Regions from separate parts of the Homo sapiens genome. Here region 2 is linked to region 1. The links come from fine-mapping of genetic effects on gene expression. Tissue or cell type: prefrontal cortex. Region 1 holds a variant in brackets; the other region holds the start of a gene. All regions are shown on one strand. Distances are from middle to middle.

What was found. PIP is the estimated chance that this variant, and not a neighbour inherited with it, causes the effect.
Region 2: ALX4 starts here. The variant in region 1 is the best candidate, but not a certain one, in a credible set for the expression of ALX4 in prefrontal cortex (CommonMind, PIP 0.68).

What each region holds. Positions count from the first base shown.
Region 1 is chr11:44,225,002-44,229,001 of GRCh38, reverse strand. All of the region lies in intron 10 of EXT2 (exostosin glycosyltransferase 2), which reads right to left. Among named protein-coding and RNA genes, the nearest start is that of ALX4, 83 kb to the left of the region's middle. The variant C/G (reference allele first, on the strand shown) is at 1,726.
Region 2 is chr11:44,307,916-44,312,428 of GRCh38, reverse strand. ALX4 (ALX homeobox 4) reads left to right here and starts at 2,290. Exons shown (of 4, transcript NM_021926.4): 1 at 2,290-2,832. The coding sequence starts at 2,367. RefSeq lists an enhancer at 1,384-2,312.

The DNA of each region.
Region 1 (4,000 bases):
GCACTTCTGCTGAAGATGGAAGTTGCTTTTCTCCCCCTGTTTACTTTGAGTCAACACAGCTCTCTCCTCCATGCTAAGAAAAGTTCAAATCGCTTTCCCTAGGGATTCTTCTTTACAAGCCCCACTTTTGCAGCCATAATAATTACATTATTACTATTATTGGCTCAGTTGTCAAGTCCAATGCTGTTAAGATTTCGGTCCTCTTACTGTTGGCTGAAATCACTTATCAGACTCCTCTCAGGGACTTAATTTGGTGACAATGGGTCAGATACTAAACTATGCTGCTCTAAAAGGCATCAGAGGTGTCCTGAATTTCAGGTTGCTTTGGAGCCTTTATAGTGAGCGCTGTTCCTCATGCGGGGCCTCTCAGCCCTTGACTGATTCCAAGCAGCTGGATACAATCAAGATACCATCCTTGTCACTTAATCTATAACTCTGCAGCTGACTACAGGATCAAAACGGAGTGAAACAGAATGGGATGGGCCCTCTCTAATTGAGCCCTAGTGTAGTACGAAGTCGATTATGTATACAGTAAAGCATTTTCCCAGCCAGACGAGCAAGAGCTCAAACTCTACCCTGTCTCTTCATGGCTACCCACCCCTACTCTAATTCAACTTTTTTCCTTTTACCTTGGGGAAATGCTCTGGGTAAGCCTTTTGTCATTACTACCAAATGCCTTTATATATTGTGGTGTGGGCATTTGAAACTTCACAGAATATCCCTGGAGTTCCAGTAACAGTGCTTCCACAGTTATATTATTCACAAAGTCAATATTAAATTGTCTATACTGTTGAAATCCTCCATATATATAGTGCCCCCATCTATTTTAAATTGCACGCATCTTTGGGGACAGAAGCCTATCTCTGTTATAAAAAACTCTATGCCTAAGTTAGGGACTTAGCAATAATTTGGATAGTCCTTCCATTTGTGGCTATCCCACACCACTAGTCAAATGGGGATTGTAACAATGTAAGAACGTCCTCCAACTGTTTCTTTCCATTCTAATTTTTATATTTACATCATAGGGCTGTTGTAAGGATTGTGTGAAGTTGCATAGTAAGCATTCATAGGCTTCCATCAGACTTGAGATGTTTATTAACCCAACCTTTATGCTGGACACTCTTCCAGGTACTGGGGTTAAAGTGATGGACAAGGTATTCAAGGAGACTTCTCCCAAGGAGCTTACATTCTAGTGAAGGATCCTCAACACCTCTTACCTGTTGGTCCTCAACACCTCTTACCTGATTATGGAAATGTTCTGCTCTCTAGATTCTCAGCTATGCTTACTTGGCCATTTTCCAAGTTCTTCTTTCTTGAGCCTCCTGAGGTCTTTTGTCGTGTCCCATTACTATAGATAGGATCAAACAAATATCTTCTACCTTTGTGTAAAAGCCCACAGGGGGCAGCCTAGATTGAGTCTCACATCCTATAGAAAGTGGACCAGAGGCACATGGTTAAAGTAGGTCCAGGAAGCTCTGCCACTAGTGCATTGTGCAACTGACCTATTCAAGGTGTCTTGCTTCCATTTTGCCATCTATAAAATAAGGGATTGGATTAAGTGAATTCTGATGTCCTTTAACAGCTGAGATTTTTTATCTTCCTCCTCACTGACCTGTTCCCAGGGAACTAACCCACCAATTGTGATCTGTTTCAAGTTGTAAGTTTCTAAACAGCATGGGCTGCATTATCTAACTTTGTTTAAAATGCCATACACATAGAAGTACC[C/G]AATAAATGGTCCTAAAAAGAAGTTAATGCACTACCTTCTAAGCCAGCTTAGAGAGTGCATTTTAAACTCAGGGTGTGTGCTAACCGCAGTCAGATTCCGGAAACAGACTAGGGGGAGAAGGGGGAAGGTGTAACAACAGGTGGTGCCCATCTGGGACGTTCAGTTATGAAATCACGGGCCAGCACTAGGAGAAAAGCCACTCTGAAGTGGCTTCTACAGTCATCACACTGTCAAAGGCACAGTTCCACAGGGATATTGCTACTGGGTGAGCAATGTATCAGGACTCATGAACCAAGAGACAGACTAAGAAGTAGTGAGAGAAATGGAATTGGGGGTGCAGTCTATAGATCCAAGGCACATCAAATTTGGCAATGGCTTCATTTCCTTCCTTGCACACACTGCCTGAGTTTGGTCAATCCTTAACCATTAAAGTGCAACAGAGCTCTATGAACCAGCTCAAACCTTGCTGTCACATGGCTGGGTCAGCCAAGACAGAGCACAAGGAATCCAATATGCAAAAGCATCTTTGAATTAGTGGCCCTTCTTCCCTTCAGGCTTCGTCTTGCATGCTGCCCAGATGGGAAAGGGGCAGCTGGCTGGCTTCCAATTCCGAGCTGGTTTCCACAGAGGAGCCAGTTATAGGATTCACTCTCAGCCCTCTGGGAACAAAGCTCACCTTTTATTTTTGGAATTTCCTGAAATGAAGTGGAATGGAGGGACTGACTGCCTTCATTTTCAGCTTATGCTTTTAACTACAGTGGTAGTTGGCAGTTTTTGTCAAGGATGTGCTTTGAGAAAAGCCAAGGAGCCTTCATTCACTCCTGGGACACAATTCAATGCTGATACTAGCCATCTACAGCCAAGGAGCCCAGAAGTTGTCATGTAGAGTTCCCTAATGCTGACTAGTTTTGACAAACACATGGACAAACTGCATTATGGATTAAGATTTACCTGTGAGATCACTTTAGTCTGTCCGAGAGACCTTCCCAACCCCAGGCAGGAGCTTGCTTAAAATAAGCCACGCAGGAAAACCAATTACATGGGCAGGCTTCTGGGGTTTGGGCAGCATTCCCATTTGCTCCAGTCTGGCTAGAGGTTGGTACCTTGGTACTGGGGCACCTGATCTCCATTCTTTGCAAGTTATTTTTTAAGGCCAGGTGCCATGAAGATGGCAAAGAGACAGACTGGGGTTGGCCATAGTTGATAAAAAAATCTGTGCCATTAAATCTTTCAATAATTACCACTACTAGGAAGATACTGCCAAAGAAAGTGTCTTTAAACATGTGCCTCATCCTTGTATCTGTACCAGCTCACTGGACAGCATAACCATGAGCCTTCTGTGGATAATAAGAAGACTCACACTTTGGCAGTTGGAGCTGATGACCACTGTCCAAGCTATCTCAGAGATCTGCAACCTCAGAGATCATGTAGAAGGCAGAGGTGACTTGGTCCAGTTCCCTCATTGCACAGATGAGAAAACTGAGACCTGGAGAGACATGGTTCTCCCAAGGTTACAGTGCTGGGTCAAGTCTAAATTGGCCCGAACTCCCAGTCCAATCTTCTATTCATGAAGTCATCTGACTTCCTACTATGCTAATTCTAAAAAGCACCTTATTGTCCCCAAGCTCAGCCCCTCACCTGAAAACAAAGAAGTCAGATTATGATGTCAAAAACGACATTCAGGGTCAATGTTCTTCAGCTCTGTGGTGCCAGTGGCAGATATGAAGAGGGTCACAGGTGCCTGCTGAATGACCAGATTCAGAATAGAACCAGGTAGGGAGAGGAGGCAGGGAACACGAAAAAACCCTTTGCTCCCATCAGTCTTCATTTCTAAAAGCTACAGGCTCTTTGTGAATGTGGTTTCCATCTAGCAAAGAAAGCCATATGCTCACACCATTAAAAGAAAGAACTCCAGTCAGCTGTGCAGCAAACTAGTGAGACTCCACATCTGACATCTGAGGGCCTACTGGAACCTCGTAATCTGTGAGGCTCTGAGGCAGAGAAGGAAACACAAGCAAAAAGCAGCTAAATGAAAGATTAACCCCAAATACTATTTTTCATGAGGCAATGAATCTCTTGGGAGATAATAAGAAGGGAAGGAGAGATGAGAGTTTGAGGGGATGGGAGGAGGAGGAAGAGATGGGTCAGGATCAGGTCGTGGGTTTTCTAATTCTGTGCTCCCTAAGACCCAGTAAAGATGAAATCACTTTTATTTCCATAACCTCAGCTCCAGTGTGGGTCATACTATTTCTAAGTCTAATCTCAGGAGATTGC
Region 2 (4,513 bases), 83 kb before region 1:
AGCGTCAACTTAAACTAGGAGAGACGGGAAGTCTTCCTAGAGGAAGATGCTCTAGGCTGAACTCTGAATCATTAGCCAGACAAAAGTGCAGGAATGAGTTTAGGGAATTCCAGGTAGGGGAAACCACCTATGCTACAGTGCACAGGCTAGAGACCTTGGCAGGTTCTAGGAACTTGAAGAAACCGCTGGACAGGAGCATTTAGGATGATGGCAGGAGCACTCCGCTTTTTGCTAACTGGAAAATTATTTTGGTTGAGTCTCAGTCTACCCATATGCAAAATGGGTATGATAAGCCTTGTATTGCCAGATTGTTGGCACAACAGGAGCTCAATAAATAAAGGACTCTCAAGTGGCTTAGGTCTGCGGGCCAGTGAGGCGCGGTTCCCATTGGGCATGGAGTGGGGGGCGGCTGGAGCCTGCGCGCTCCTGGCTTGGTTTGCGGAATATCTTTATTAACGAGCACTTCAAGGTAAGCCGGCGATGGAAACCAGATGTGGGATCGCGCGGTCGGCGGCGGAGCAAGGACCAGAGATACTAAGGGGGTAGGGTGGGGGTAAGAATTAGCCCAGATGAGATTGGGAGCAGAAGCGCGACCCCCCAGGTATATTTTTTCTTTGGGAGACCTTAGATGCAGAAAGTTGACATCTGACCCACATTCCTTGGTTCACGGTGCTCAGGCCCTCTTTAATTTTACCTTGCACTTTTACCTCTCACCCTACTCCCAGACTCCCTAGAGGTACGTTCTCGCTTAACGATTTTCTCAGCGGTTTAAGGAAGGCTGCTCTCGCTGGTCTCCTTCAACTTGAACCATTCCACAGCCGGGGGCCAGTTTCCCCTCTGCATCTACGCTGTCCGCACGGCCTTCCAGGTCGGTGGAGGGACTAGCCTGAGCAGAGGTTCCAGGGCGCGACGGCTATTTCCCAGCTGTGTGACCTGGACCAGGTGGCCGCCCCTCTCTGAGCCTCCGTTAGCTCATCAGAAAATTGGGGGCGCCAATCTCTAGCACGGTTGTCATGAAGCGAAATCGAGGGGCTGCACGCGCAAAGTTTTTTCCCTTGCTGTGGCGGTGCCAGGGGCCTTGAGGCTCGCAGTGGTGGTGAAACCACAACCTATCAAAACCAAGCAGTTCGTTTTACAGTCGGGGGCAGTGAGGCCAGAAAGGGAAGAGACGGTCTCACCCCTCTCCCCGACCCCTGACCCCAAGGAGTGAACAGGTGACAGCGCGACTATCGGGCAAGGTCAGGGGGTCTCCAGAGTCCGCTCTCTGTACTTCGCCTGGCAGGAAATCCCCTCGCCTGGGCGCAGACGTGGGGCGTGAACGGTGCGGCCTCTAGACGGGAGCGCAGAGGGCAGCGCTCTAAAGCTTCTGAAGCCGGGCCCAGCCCAGGGCTTCTCCAGGGCTTGAGGGAGCACAGATTCCGCTACATCCCAGCCCAGCGCCCTTACAGCAGAGGGAAATAGTTAACAAGACGTGCAAGTGACCATGCACTGGACGACGAAGGCTTGTGTGTGTGTTAATCTCCCGTAGGAACGGGAATGGGGAGGAAGGTTGGAAACCTAGGAAAAGGTGCCAGCGGGAAGGCCCGCAGCGGCGCCCGCGAGCTCGCGCGCAGGAGTCCGTAGGACTCGCTTGCATCCGCAGGCCCGTGGTCCCCCTGGCTTCGAATGTCAAAACCTGTTAGGTTTATTTTGGGGGGCTTTTTTTTAACCTGTCATTAAAATTTGCATTTCCCTTTGCCCTAAGGCAAAGCTCCGACACCCCGCCAATTCTCAGCCTAGCCTCGGGAGCCCTGGGGATCCTGGCATCTCCCCAGCCCCGCCTAGAATCGGAAAAGCCCTCGGGCGCCTCCGGGTTGAATCCCCGCTAGCGAGTTAGTAGCATCTCCTTAAGAGTGGAGAGGAGGGGGCAGGGGCCAGTGGAAGGAGAGAGGAGGAGGGGACGAGAGAGGGGGAAAGGAAGAAGCAAGGCAGGGAAAAAAATTTACTTATTTTTTTTTTCCGCTGCAAAACCTTAAGAGGGTTTGGGAGATCTGGTCAACTTTCCGAAACATCTGAATCTTTTTACTGCCCTCCGTTCTTTCCCTCGGCTAGCTGTGGGGAGGGAGGAAAGAGAGAGAGGGAGAGAGAGAGGAAGGGGGGGGGAGGGAGGGGAAGAGAGAGAGAGGAGGGAGAGAGAGGAGAGAGACAGAGAAAGAAGAGGGGGAGAGAGAGAGAGGCCGGCGTGGAGGGGAGGAGGGAGAGCGAGCAGGCCGGGCAAGGAGTGCACAGCCACAGCCTCCTCGCCTCCCCAAACTCCCAGCCAAGGCGCGCGGTGGCGTCCTCGCGCCCTCGCTCGCGTCCCCGCCCGCCGCCTGCGCAAGCCAGGCATGAATGCTGAGACTTGCGTCTCTTACTGCGAGTCGCCGGCCGCTGCCATGGACGCCTACTACAGCCCGGTGTCGCAGAGTCGGGAGGGCTCGTCGCCTTTTAGGGCATTTCCCGGAGGCGACAAGTTCGGCACAACTTTCCTGTCGGCCGCCGCCAAAGCACAGGGATTCGGGGACGCCAAGAGCCGGGCCCGTTACGGCGCTGGGCAGCAGGACCTGGCGACACCCCTGGAGAGTGGAGCTGGGGCGCGGGGCTCCTTTAACAAGTTCCAGCCCCAGCCGTCGACCCCGCAGCCCCAGCCGCCGCCGCAGCCGCAGCCGCAGCAGCAGCAGCCGCAGCCCCAGCCGCCCGCGCAACCGCATCTTTACTTGCAGCGAGGCGCCTGCAAGACGCCCCCGGACGGCAGCCTCAAACTCCAGGAAGGCAGCAGCGGCCACAGCGCGGCCTTGCAGGTTCCCTGCTACGGTGAGTGCACGTGCGGGTCACCTGGTGCTGGGGACCACGGGGTGCTTGGCTTCCGCATCCCTTGAAACTGGTGGCTTGCGGGAGGTATGAGTTGGCGGGCTGGGGGCGGGGTGGTGACTCTGGTCGGTAAACGGGATCGATCGCTGCGAGGGAGCCAAGGGATCTGTTCTGTCTCCTTCTTGTCCGCCGGCCTAGGCACGGAGCGTTTCGGCTGTTAAACTCGACTTGGAGTTTGTTTTTCCCGGTCCCTTCGGCATTTCCCCAAACCGCTCGCTTTGCGCTGCCCGCTGGGCGGGATTTGAAGCGGATGCTTCTTACCGGCCCAGGGCGTGCGGCGGCAAGGAGTCTCCGCGCAGCGCTCTGGCGCTGGGCTGCGGGGCTGCGGGGCTGCGGGGCTGCGGGGCTGCGGGGCTGCGAGGCTGCGGGGCTGCGGGGCTGCGGGACAGCAGGACTGCAGAAGCCTCGCTCCTCGCCGGCTGGGAGGCTCCTCGGGCGGCGCCGCCGCAGGTGAGAGCGCCGCAGGTGCGGAGCCAGGCGGGAAGCCCGGAGCGTGGTTGGCCGAAAGCTCACGGGAAATCCAGGCGCACTGGCGCAACACAGTGCGGAGCCAGAGACCCTAGGGTCCCAGGGGACACTGTGGTCTGGCAAGACCCGAGTCCTGGGACCCTGAGCGCTACTGGCAGTGGGGATGCGGGCAGGCCAGTTCCCCTGGAGCTTCTCCCTCGGCGATTCTTGGAGGCGGCAGGCCTCTGAACAATGGTTTAGGACAGAGTAGGAAGGGAGACAGGAAGTCCCGAGTCCCAGGTGGCCCAGAGCTGTGGCAAGAGAGAAGGGTCTGGGTCCTGATTTGAGCCCACGGGGAACCCGGGGGAGCTGGCCTAAATGACCTCCAAGCTGCCTTGAACGCAGCCACAGGAGGCAGGCCTGGGCCCCCCAGAGCACAGCCACCATTGCCCGGGAGAGAGAGACACTCAAGGACGTCTCTAGCCAGAGCAGCTCAGTAGCCTAGGCCTTCTCTTCTTCCAGAGAATCGGGGTTCCTGAACCCCAAAGCGGAAGGGGAAGCAAAGACGCAGAAAGGGAAAAACCTTCTCTGGGCCAGGAGTCCTGAGCACATACCCGGAGGCCTTGGCCTTCAGGTCCGGCCCTGGTGGGAAGAGTTGGGGGCAGGGAATTTGCCCTGATCCAGGCTGATGGAGAGGCACTAGGCCTGGGGACAGAGGCTGGGACACGGCGGAGGCCTTGGTGGCTAGAATAACTTTGGGAAAACAGCCGATGGCAGATATTTTCTCGTATTCAGGTTCCTTCTTTCACAGGCGCAGAACTAGTTCATAGATGGCTGCTGACAAACATTCACAGTCATATGCTTGTCTACAATTGCACTCTACACACACACACGCAGAGAGCATCTTCTTTAGGAGCCGATGTGGTCATACCCCAAGAACACATGCCCATGTGGCCTCGAATGAGCCACATACTCCCAAACCCATAGGACAGAACTGAGAGAAGATTTAGAAAGATTCAGTGGCCCTTCCCCACTTCCTCCACCTTCCTCTTCACCTCCAGTTGGAATGAGATCAGGCATTCAGATCACAGACCCCCAAGGCTCCACACACAGACACCCACAGCTCCACATGCAGGCACACACAGTTCCACACACAGACACCCACTGCTCCACACAC